Linked DNA regions of Homo sapiens. The protein of the gene in region 1 purifies or fractionates together with the protein of each later gene. This does not show direct contact. Each region holds a gene or a part of one and is shown in the gene's direction. Other genes may lie near its edges.

Region 1 (4,379 bases):
TATTTTTAGTAAAGATGGGGTTTCACCATGTCGGTCAGGCTGGTCTCGAACTCCTGACCTCAAGTGATCCACCCGCCTTGGCCACCCAAATTGCTGAGATTACAGGCGTGAGCCACCAAACATTTTTATACCAACTATATCTATTTGATTTAGACATACTTATCTAGGTTGAAAAGTAATCACAGAAATTAAATTAGCAGGAATCGTAGAAAGAAGCAGGGCCTGTGGTAAAAAGCATTAATGATGGAGCAGACCTGACTGGTTTTCATTGTCTTTCCTGAAGCTATCTCTTTGATCCAGTTCAAGTGCCCTCTCCTGGCTATGTCAATGAAGTCAACAGCTGCAAGCTAGATGAAGACGACACTGATAAATTAAAAGGCAAATGGAGCAGTGAAGTCTTGGTGCAGAAAAATGACCCTCAGAGGCAGGGCTCAAAGAAGACTGAGAGCAGCAGCAGGACAGCTGATCCATGGGAGCCCTGCTGGCCTCACCAAGGGCCGCTCCCACAGGGGGACGCTGGAGGGGAACACCATGCCTGCGGTGTCAACGGCATCGGCCCTGCTGCCACTCCACAGCCCACTGGGAATTCCAGCCCCACCCAGGATGACAGGGGCTCCTGGGCCAGTACTGCAAATACTGTTCCCCCAACTCAACCCTTCCTGGAAGGAGGGGGCACCAGGAAACAGGACTGTGTGCTGCTGGCCTCAGAAGGGACCCAAGTCATGAGAAATGGAGACTCCAGAGCTCCTTCTGAGGCAGAAAGTTTTGCCTTGGAAGTACAAGACCATGTCTTCCAGATACCAGCCCCAGATTACCTTCAGCATTGGGGCCCAGCTGGAGACAACGTTGATCATAATGAAAAGGACTGTGTTTTCAAGAACCATACTGAGGATGAATCCCTAGAGGGAATTCAGCCCCCAGTGGGGGAGCATGGTTTGAATACGCCCTTCTCTGTGAGGAGAAGCTGGGATTCATTGAATGAGGATGTGGAAACAGAAGTTCTAAGCATCTGCTTTAATGAGAAGGGTCCTGTTCATGCCATGCCTGTGGTTGACTCAGGAAACAGGCAGGAGGATACCCATGGCTCCGATGGAGATGGGGATGGGGAGATTGTGGACGAGGATGCAGCGGTGGCGGAGGCCCTTGCAGCTTTAGAAGCTGCTACTGCAGGAGAAGATTTGGATGAGACTGATTAGGGGAGGGGATTTGCACAGGGAGGTAAGCTGGTGTCATGCTGAGCATGCAGATGCATTTGCTCCCTGGATGCATAGCAGGTGATTCTGCCAGCATGCACCAGTGCAGCCTTACCAGTTGTTTACATCCAGCATCTGTTCTGATTGTCAGCATCTGTCCCATGCTGCTTGTCACATATCTGGAGTTTCACTCTGTGTAGATGAGCTGTCATTCAGGACACTAGGAGAAAAATCTGAGTGGGTCATTGTGCCCATATCCACAGAAAATGCAGAAGTTGAACAGCTTGCTTGACAACCCTCAAACATCTTTGAGCACCTGGTACAGATGTTTATGAGAATACTCTAAGATCTCAACCCTTGATCCCAAAGGCACACAATCACAGAGCATTCCTTTTGACTGTAAACTGTTTACCTTGCTTTTGAGAGCCAAACATTGTACCCAACCTGGAAAAAGTAACTACCCCAATTAAAGTGCCTCATGTGTCCCCAGAGCATGGCTTAACTTCAGGGACAATCACCCAGGGAACTAATAACTAACCAGTTGTTCAACAGCGGGTTAAGCTCAGCAGTTTTCACAGTAGAGCAGAAGTCCCCAGGAAACAAAGGGTTAGTCATTAGCTGAGATGTTGATTTTAAAACACCTTGACCTTAACTTTTTTACATTATTACTTTTAAATCTCCTTTGGGATTGGGGAGGCTGGCCAAAATAAGTCTTAAAACTGCTTATGTCATATTTGGATTTTAAGTTCATGACATTCGGAACAGCAAAGCCATATATGCAATGTTTTTATGCCATTAAATGTCTGATTCCAATTAAAATATAACAACGTATGTGTCTTTCTAGAAGTCTTAACTCAAAGGTGGTTCTAATTTTCTCAGAATATCAGTGACCCTGGATGTTACTTTCAATGTAAAGAACTAATCTAGATGGCCGGGCGTGGTGGCTCATGCCTGTAATCCCAGCACTTTGGGAGGCCGAGGCGGGTGGATCACAAGGTCAGGAGTTCAAGATCAGCCTGGCCAACATAGTGAAACCCTGTCTCTACTAAAAATACAAAAAATTATCCGGGCACGGTGGCGGGCGCCTGTAATCCCAGCTACTTGGGAGGCTGAGGCAAGGAGAATCACTTGAACCTGGGAGGTGGAGGTTGCAGTGAGCTGAGATCGTGCCACTGCACTCCAGCCTGGGTGACAGTGCAAGACTCCATCTCAAAAAAAAAAAAAAAAAAAAGAGCTAAGCTAGGCACAGTGGCTCATGTCTGTAATCTGAGCACTTTGGAAGGCTGAGGTGAGAGGATTGCCAGGGCCAGGAATTCGAGACCAACCTGGGCAATTTAGCGAGACCCCATCTCTATGAAAAAAAAAAAAAAAAAAAGAGCTAGACTACAAAATTATACTCAAGGAAGGGACCGAGCTGGTTTGCAGAGCCATAGCTTTGGCTTTCTCTCTGTCAAACTTGATGCCATAACTAAATGTCCTGATCTTACCTCAAAGATGAACAAGCCCTCTCTGGATTTCAGCCTTCTAATTCACTGAAACAAGGACAACCATTCTAACGTAACTCAATGGAGAATTTAAAGGCATTAAGGATGCTCAAAACTATCTAGAAAAAAATAAACATGGAAGATGCTTTAGTTTGGTGTTTTGTAACACAGAATTGAAATCTGACTGAACTTCATTTGATTTCCAGCTTTGCCATGTGACCTTGGACAAGTTATGTATCCCTTTACCCATCTGTAAAGTGAGAAGAATAATTGTATGTGCTTGTAAAGGTTAAATGAGATGATGTAAGTGTTTAGCACAGTGCTTGGCACACTAGGCACTCAAAAATGATGTTTTACTAGTTGAAAACAATTCCTTTAACAAACATTTTTACATCCCCACAACTGAAAACTCTAAAACTGGGAAGTATGTATAATGTCATTATTTGACTTTGGCAATTATTTAGTATAAAACATGATTTCTGAGCCTTCCAGCACCTTTAAGGACGGCACCCTTACAAATGCTTAATGAGCCTATGGGTTTGTTTGGTACTGTAATGACAAGCCATCGCAAGTGACCTCTATATACAGGGTCACTCAGAGCCCTTAAAAAGATAAAGTCTTGGCATTGTTAATTGCATTAGAGGTATGTCTCCTTTTGTATTTAGTACACCAAATACTTAATATTTCAGAATGCTTATTCCTTCAATGATTTCCTAAGTGTATCAGTTGAGATTATGTTCAGTTGTATGGGACGAGTGTTTTATACAAATAGAGGCTTATTTACCTCTTATGTAAAAGAAGTCTGGAGTTAGTGATCCAGGGTGGTAGAGAATGTATCACTGGCCCGTGTATCAATGACCCACATATCAATGACCCACGTATCAATGACCCGCATATGAATGACCCATGCTGCTTCAATCATTTTGGTTTCCTTCTCAAGATCACTTTGTAGTCCATAATGGCTGCTGTGGCTTCAGTCATTACATTTGCATTCCATGTTGGAAAAAGAATAAAGGAATAAAAACCCCACTCACTCTCTATTAAGGACCCCACAGAAGTATAATTCATCCCTTCCACATTACTCTCTTTGGTCAAAATCTGGTCACTTGGCCACATCTAGCTGCAAGAGAGACTAGGAAATCGTCTTGCTAGTGGTGTGCGTGGCTTTGCCAAATAAACTCAGAATGCAGTTACTAAGAAGGGGAAATGGACAATGAGTTTCGAGGCGGTCAGTTTACAGTCTCTGCCACAGGAGGTCTCAAAACCCAAAAGCCTGGGATACAGCTGGTTTCAAAAGATTGGAAGATCGTGTGTACATTCAGTGTGACACCAAAGGGGCTTCCACCTTTGGTCCGGGGGAAGGAGGACTGGACAGCTACCGCTGCTCCAACTTCCCATTGATAACTCCAAACCGGACGAAAAGAAGAAATTCAGACAAAGAAGGGGTAGGGTAAGGTATCAGGGCAGACAAGTCTCTTTCTCTTACCCAGACACACACTTTCGCATTTATATATGTATATAATTTTACATCTTAGAACAGCTGCAGAGTTCACCATAACTGACAGCTCTGTAGTTTTAAAGATTCTCTTTTATGAATAACTGCTTTGAAAAGGTCGACAGATGGCCAATACTTTCAAGAGTTCTTTAAAAGTAATTCTGGCCCCTTTCATCTTTACTCCAGTATCCAGGATCCCCCAAAGGA
Region 2 (7,293 bases), on another chromosome or scaffold:
GCTTGCTCTGATAGGCCTCATAGCCCTCCCTTTTTCTTGTCTCCTGACCAGGGCTTATAAGGAGTTGGCTTAGAAAGACAGCAGAGTCTGTAATCTCAGCAGTTTGAGAGGCCGAAGTGGGCGGATCATGAGGTCAGGAGATCGAGACCATCCTGGCTAACATGGTGAAACCCTGTTTCTACTAAAAATCCAAAAAATTAGCTGGGCGTGGTGGCACACGCCTGTAATCCCAGCTACTCGGGAGGCTGAGGCAGGAGAATCACTTGAACCCGGGAGGCGGAGGTTGCGTTGAGCTGAGATTGTGCCGTTGCACCCCAGCCTGGGCGACAGAGGCAGACTCCGTCTCAAAAAAAAAAATAAAATAAAAAAATAAAGCAGAGTGAATTCAGGTGGCCTAGGCAAGGATGCTTGAAAAATAACAACCATGTTAGTATAAACACCATTTTTCAATGTTTTGCAAATCATTTTTATGCCTCTTGATTCTTACCGGTACCGTTTGAGATGTAGATGATATTATACCATTTTGTAGATGTGGAGACCAAGGAAGACTTAACTGACCAAGGTGAGATCATATATTATGTGGCAAATTTGTGATTGGAAACTACTACTCCTCCTACTCCCACTCATCATGCAGTGTTACTGTTTTATGGTTACTTTTGCAAACATTAAAGTTTATCTCATTGCTAGTTAGATTGGCTAAAGAAATTAGAAATAGGAGGCTGATTTTTTAATTTATTCAATCAGCAACCCTTATTGAACTTTCATGTGCCAGGTCCTAGGGGAGGGGTTGAAAGTGGTAGATCTGAATGAGGTTACCATTTAAAGTAAATGTTTAATGAAAGTTGCTGAAGCCTTTGCTTTTTTTCTCTTAAACCCCAGTTTTATATTTCAGTAGGGGAAAAAAATAGACATCAGAAACTGAATGAATATAGTGACGAATAAACATAAAGAAATCAGGCTGATCTGTGGCTATAAGTACTCCGTCTTTCATTGAGCATTTGTTGTTTCACTCAATTGAGATTAAAAGAAAAGCTTCAGATGGAGGCAGGAACACCAATCGGCTTTGAGTTTGCAGAAATGTGATTTAAAAATGAGATTTTGGTTTGCACATTTCTGTTACAAAATTTTATCAGTCACTTTTCAACTTTTCTGAACCGTGACCCATGTAAGAAATATATTTTACATCAGGATCAAAAACAAGTTTCAGGAGACCGTACTAATCCTTACTACGGGTTGAGTATCCCTCATCCAAAATGCTTGGGACCACAAGTGTTTCGAATTTTGGAATATTTGCATTATATGCTTGTTGAACATCCGAAATCAGAAGTGCTCCCAATGAGCATTTCCTTTGAGTGTCATGTTGGCGCTGAAAAGTTTCATATTTTGGAGCATTTTGGATCAGGGATGCTCAGCCTGTGCTTGTGATGTGCTGTTGTGGTATATTTAAAAAAGGAGCTGGTTGCAACACTAGATTGATTTCACAGCCCACTGATTCCTGACCCACAGTTTGAAAAATACTGAATTATATACGTCACATGTATTGCATATTGCAGGGCCTGGTTAATTTACCATGTTTTGAAGTTGTAAGTTTAACATAGTTTCATATTTGAAAATACAGATAATTTAGAGGAATAGCTTAAAAACCTGAAGTTTGTCTTGTTAACATCATCCTGTCCCCCTCGTTCCCCTTCTGTTTTTCTTGCTGCTTGGATAAATAGACCTTTGCTGAGAATGCCCCTTGCATCAGGATAGTGAGACTGGTGTCTAATGGCCAGTCTGGGAACATGGGGAGCTTTTCTCAAGTGCTCTGCTCCACCCTAGGGAAGCCTGTGCACTCTGGGAGTCTGGGAAATGAAGGCAAACACAGGACAGCTGCATTTAATTGTGGCTTAAGTGCTCTTGTACTTTTTTTTCTTGTTAGTGTCACATTTCCACGGGTTCTTTTCCGTTCCTTCCTTGGGAGGTGCCTGCCCAGTTACCCTGTTACCATCTGCACCCTGGGGGAAGGTTGGTGTGTCACTGGGTGTGGACAGTCAGGACATCCGAGACGTGGGTTCGGAGAGCACCTTGGGGACTTGCTGAACTGTGGAGTGTGCTCTGGTGACTGACAGCATTGGACTGCACAGGGGAGCCTGCAGAGTATAGTGCCCGGAGTCGTTGGAGGCAGAGTTCAGAGCCTCAGTCCATCCTGTCCTCAAGAGGTCGGCTGCCTGCTTTGGGGCATGTGCTCTAAGAAGGTTGCAGTGACTGAGGACACAGTGAGCAAAGGCACATGGTTGGAAAGCGGTGACACAGCTTCTGGTGGGCTAGATCTAGATCGGTCCTGGAGCTGAAGAGGCAGTGGGGTGCCTGTGGGCCTGGGGGAGGCCTTGCATCTGTAGACAGCCGGAAGTATGGCACATTTTTGAGCAGATGATCTCCTGTTCTTTGGGGCTCCTGCTTTCTCAGGTGTGGGGAGTGCTGGGTGCCCCTTTAGAAGGCATTGCAGCACTTCAGGGAAGAGGAAGCCCAGGGATGCGAGTGGGGAGCCCAGGTGTCAGTAGGACAGCCTAAGTGGATTTTTTTAGCATTCACTCAGCTTCGTGGCTTGAACTCTCAGTGAACATTTTATAGTATCTCATTACTCCTCTTGCTTTATGATCCTTTTTGCTGATCAGTGCTAAAGAGTAATAAGTACTCAGTTACTGTTAGTTACTGTTTTGTTAGTTAGTTGCCTATGTAAGTGTCAAAAAAACAAAAAACCTATTTTGAATACTCCGTGTTCCAAAATGTAACAATGGTAAGAATTTGTTTTGCTTGAAAGTGTTCTTTTTTGAGGGGGAGGATGGTCACAAGGTTTTTTTAAATTAGAAAAACCCAAACTTTTGGAGGAGTCCAGTCTCAGATCTGGGAGTATTCTTGATAGCATGTCACATAAAAGCAAGTGACCTTCAAGTAGGAATTGGTCAGATGAGATTTTCTAGCTTGCTAACTGTGCTGAGCAGTTATGGGCAGGTGGCGGCTGGCATCATTGCTTTCCCACCCTCTTTCTGACTTTGATGCTCTTCTTGGAGCTACGGTCTGATGCGTAGAGCTGAGCTGCCTAATGTGGTGCAGGTTGAGTTTCATTTTCAGTTCAGTATTTTTCCAGGACCCTGGTGCAAGATGCAGGGTGAGCAGTTACTGAAGGGAGGAGCCTGTCGATGGTCACTGCTACTTTCTGCTGTGCTTGTGCGGTTACACACACTCTAAAGCCGCAGTCCAGGCGTCCGATGGTCTCCTGAGAAACGGGCCCCTTAGCTCTTTATTTGGGCGATTACTCCCGATGATTCAGAGCTGCCCTTGTGGAAGCTCCTTACCTGCAGGAAGTGGACCACACCCAAGCCACCTTTCTGTGCCTTTTAATGCCTTAGCTCAGCTGATTATCATTAATGGAATCTTGTGGGTGGTGTGAGTGCAGGAAATAGAAGTTGCACTCTATTATCCATGTCTCATCGCGTAGAATCAGCCACTGTCGTCGGAGTAGTTTGTAGCAGTCATTTCCCATAATTCATGTTTTTGCAGTGGAAATTATAAAAAATATAAGTGCCAAATGCTTTGGGAAAAATAACCTGCCTCCTGAGGGTGACTATGGAGTTTCTTAATCCTAAATGGCTCCCTGGTTTGCAAGGTTTAAATTAGGGGAAATAAACTGAGATATGCCTTTGCTTGGTACAAACTGTGAAACATCCCAAATTGGTGGTTACCAGTCACTTTATGCGCACCCAGGGAACAACATTGTTGACTCTAGAGACCTTCCATTGTGTTTCTTGAGGGTTCTTCGTCAGCAAAAGAAACCTTTTCTGTTCTGCGCTCTGTTGGTATCTGAATACATTGTGGGAACATTTCAAGTTTTAAATTAATGCTTACCAAGTACGTAGCTGGGGTTTATCTTCCTATTATTTTAAGTCTCTTCCTGTTTTTTAAGAGAATTTTAGGCCGTAAGGTTTGAAAGAACTGTTACAGGTCCACATCCTTTGTTTTATTTGTAATTACTTAGGATTTTGTTTAGTTTCTATTTAGAAATGTCTAATGGGTAGTTTTGTAAGGTTGGTTGGGAAAGATAGCAGCTGCTTCCACCTCCCGCCATTTCTTATTCCCCGAGGGCAGCCCCTTTGATCTCTCCTGGTTGATTTTTGTTTTTGTTACTCCTTAGTTTATGAGGAACATTAAAAAATTGACCGGGGGCGGTGGCTCACGCCTGTAATCCCAGCACGTTGGGAGGCTGAGGCAGGTGGATCACTTGAAGTCAGGAGTTCAAGACCAGCCTGGCCAACATGGTGAAACTCTGTCTCTACTAAAAATACAAAAAAAACAGCTGGGCGTGGTGGTGGGCGCATGTATTCCCAGCTACTTGGGAGGCTGAGGCAGGAGAATTCTTTGAACCTGGGAGGCGGAGGTTGCAGTGAGCTGAGATGGTGCCACTGCACTCCAGCCTAGGTGACAGAGTGAAACTCCATCTCAAAAAAAAAAAAAAAAATTTCTGCCTGTGTTTTTTTTTTTTTCCTGGTTTCAGGCATTGTCTATAGACTTTGGACCCTGCGGATGAGGATTTACTTCTCTTCCGCTTGCCTCTTTTCCTCACATGGGCTCCCCGCTCTCCCCCAGCAGAGAGATGTTGTAATGTCAGTGAGGTCAGAATGCGGTGTGTACATTAATGGACTGCAGACGGATCTGCAGCCCAGCCATTATTACTCAACCATAGTTACTGATCAGATTTCTTTTCTTTTGGTAATGCTTCTCATTCATCCCAGCACTCTGTAGTTGTTGCAACCTTGTCTTAGGAAGTTCGGGTGGCACCTGTGCCTTTCGTCACCTGCGTATCTTCTATGCTTCTTGTGCCACCCCCATCCTCTGGTCTTCCTTTGCTCTCATCCTCTGGGTTCCTTCTGCTGCTCTCTTGTGTTGAATATCTGTTTTGTTTTTTTTTGTTTTTTTTTTTTTGTCTCTGCTGTCATTTTCTTTCTTGGTTTATGCCATGATGTTGGTTGGGCATATAGTGCGCCATTTTCTGTGAATAGGCAGCGTGGGAGACAGGCTTTTCAAAAATTTTTTTTCTTCTCCCTCAGTTGATATTTTAGCATGGTGTAAAATTGCAGGGTGGACATTCATTTCCTCCAGAATTTTAAAGGTGTTTCTCCACTGTGTTTTAGCTTCCAGTGTTGCTGTTGAAGATGGAGGCCCTGCCAGCACCGGCTTCTGTGTGTGCAGGCTGTGCTGTTCTTCCTGGACCTAATGGGATCTGAACTTTTTCCTTGAGTTCTGAAGTTTCACAATGATGTGGCTTGGAGTGGGGCTGTTTTCGTTTCTCGTGACAGATACTTGGTTAGGCCTTTTCTGTGAAGCGACTCAGATCTTTTCATTGACTTTTTTCTTTGATTCCCCTCCCCCCTTCCATTTTCTGTGTTCTTTCTTTCTGAAACTTTATTACTTGGATGGTGAACCTTCTGCATCGGCCCTCAAATATTCTTTTATCTTTTTTGTTTTTCGAGATGGAGTCTCGCTCTGTCACCCAGGCTGGAGTGCAATGGCGTGATCTTCATTCACTGCAACATCTGCCCCCCCAGGTTCCAGTGATTCTCCTGCCTCAGCCTCCCGAGTAGCTGGGATTACAGGCGCCCACCACCATGCCTGGCTAATTTTTGTATTTTTTAGTAGAGATGAGGTTTCACCATGTGGAGCAGGCAGGTCTCGAACTCCTGACCTCAGGTGATCCACATGCCTCGGCCTCCCAAAGTGGTGGGATTACAGGTGTGAGCCACCATCCCCGGCCTTCATTCCCCATTTTTAAGTATGCTGCCTCTGCTTCCGGCTGTGTCTGCTGCAGCCTGGTCCATATATCCTCAATTTTTCCTTCCTTTGCAGATAATATATTTTCATCATTTCCTTGACTTTGGGAGCCTGGCTGTGAGATGTGGGGCAAGCTGTCTGGCTGTCTACCCACTTCTGTGGCTGACTTTGAGGCTCTGCCTGGTTCACTCATTCCCCCGGCAGAGGGACTGGTGCCGTCAGTTCCTGAGAGCCGGGGGTCCAGCACTGTGAGTTAAGTTAGTTCTCTGCTGGCCCGGCGCGATGGCTCATGCCTGTAATCTCAGCACTTTGGGAGGCCGAAGCGGGTGGATCATTTGAGGTCAGGATTTCGAGACCAGCCTGACCAACATGGTGAAACCCCTTCTCTACCAAAAACACAAAAATTAGCCAGGCGTGATGATACACGCCTGTAATCCCAGCTACTTGGCAGGCTGAGGCAGAATTGCTTGAACCCAGGAGACGGAAGTTGCAGGGAGCCGAGATCGCGCCATTGCACTCCAGCCTGGGCGACAGAGCGAGACTGTGCCTCCAAAAAAAAAAAAAGTTCTCTGTTTTCTGCACCTCCGGTTTAGCGTTGTCTTCCTCTACTCCCCACCCCCCCCCTTTTTTTTTTTAAACCACTACCTACTTTCCAGCTTCTGAGATTTCATTGCAGTTGTCTTCTCTCTGTTTCAGGTATGTGGTGGTTTTTAGATTTATGATTTTAGTGGGATTTCAGGATTGACCCAATTAGATGCTGCTGTCTGTGTGACCCCTCTACCTCCAAGTTGCTATTCTTCAGTTTATAGGTGAATAAAGACAGGGCCAGGCAGGTGAGGAAATTCCAAGAGCTAGGACTGACTGCTGGGCCAGGGCGGCGGGCAAGAACTCGGAGCCTCCGTTCTCTTCATCATGAGATTGTGCCTCTTATTTTCTCCCTGTAAATAAACAGCAGTATACATGTCTGCTTATTTTTCCATCTCTCTACTGGTCGGTGGCCTCCACCTCCCCAACTTGAACTGAGAACCTGCTCTTCTTGCTTCTCTCATTTTTTTGGTCCCAAGATCCTGTGGACACAGAACGATGTCCGGGAGCCTCATAGGATCTCTCTGGAGAAACGCTTGCTTAAGTTTATGATGCTTTGGGGTTCCAACCCCCTGGTCCAGAATTGAGTATGTGCTTCTTGGCAGGGCGGAGGTGGCATCAGTCTGGTCGTATGTTCCGTGGTGGTCGGTGCAGGACTGGGGCACACGTGTGCCACAGATGCCGAATAGCCCGTCAGAGGGCCTGGGTGTTATGTGGCTGTCCCAGTGGCCATGTGTTAGCAGATTGCATGTTGCAGAGTCAGTGGTGTCTGCGCGCTGGGGGCACTGCACAGCGCTGGCCATAAATCCATAGCATGTTAATGGATGGAGGACTTGAAGGGTGCGTATCTAAACAGCGAAAGCTCTTCTTTGGGGTATGGCCTTCAAGTGATTTCTTGCT

The links.
Region 2: the proteins of PGCKA1 (region 1) and STK24 purify together in Homo sapiens (affinity purification with mass spectrometry; 3 studies listed by BioGRID and IntAct, with this or other methods). This does not show direct contact.

What each region holds. Positions count from the first base shown.
Region 1 is NC_000004.12:37,589,805-37,594,183, forward strand, and holds the end of PGCKA1 (PDCD10 and GCKIII kinases-associated protein 1), read left to right. Parts: intron 1-283; coding exon 284-1,196; 3' UTR 1,197-3,706; downstream 3,707-4,379. UniProt on the Homo sapiens protein: Acts as a tumor suppressor. Acts as a tumor suppressor for colorectal cancer cell proliferation by targeting KEAP1/USP17/ELK1/CDK6 axis.
Region 2 is NC_000013.11:98,567,083-98,574,375, reverse strand, and holds part of STK24 (serine/threonine-protein kinase 24 isoform b precursor), read left to right. Parts: intron 1-7,293. UniProt on the Homo sapiens protein: Serine/threonine-protein kinase that acts on both serine and threonine residues and promotes apoptosis in response to stress stimuli and caspase activation.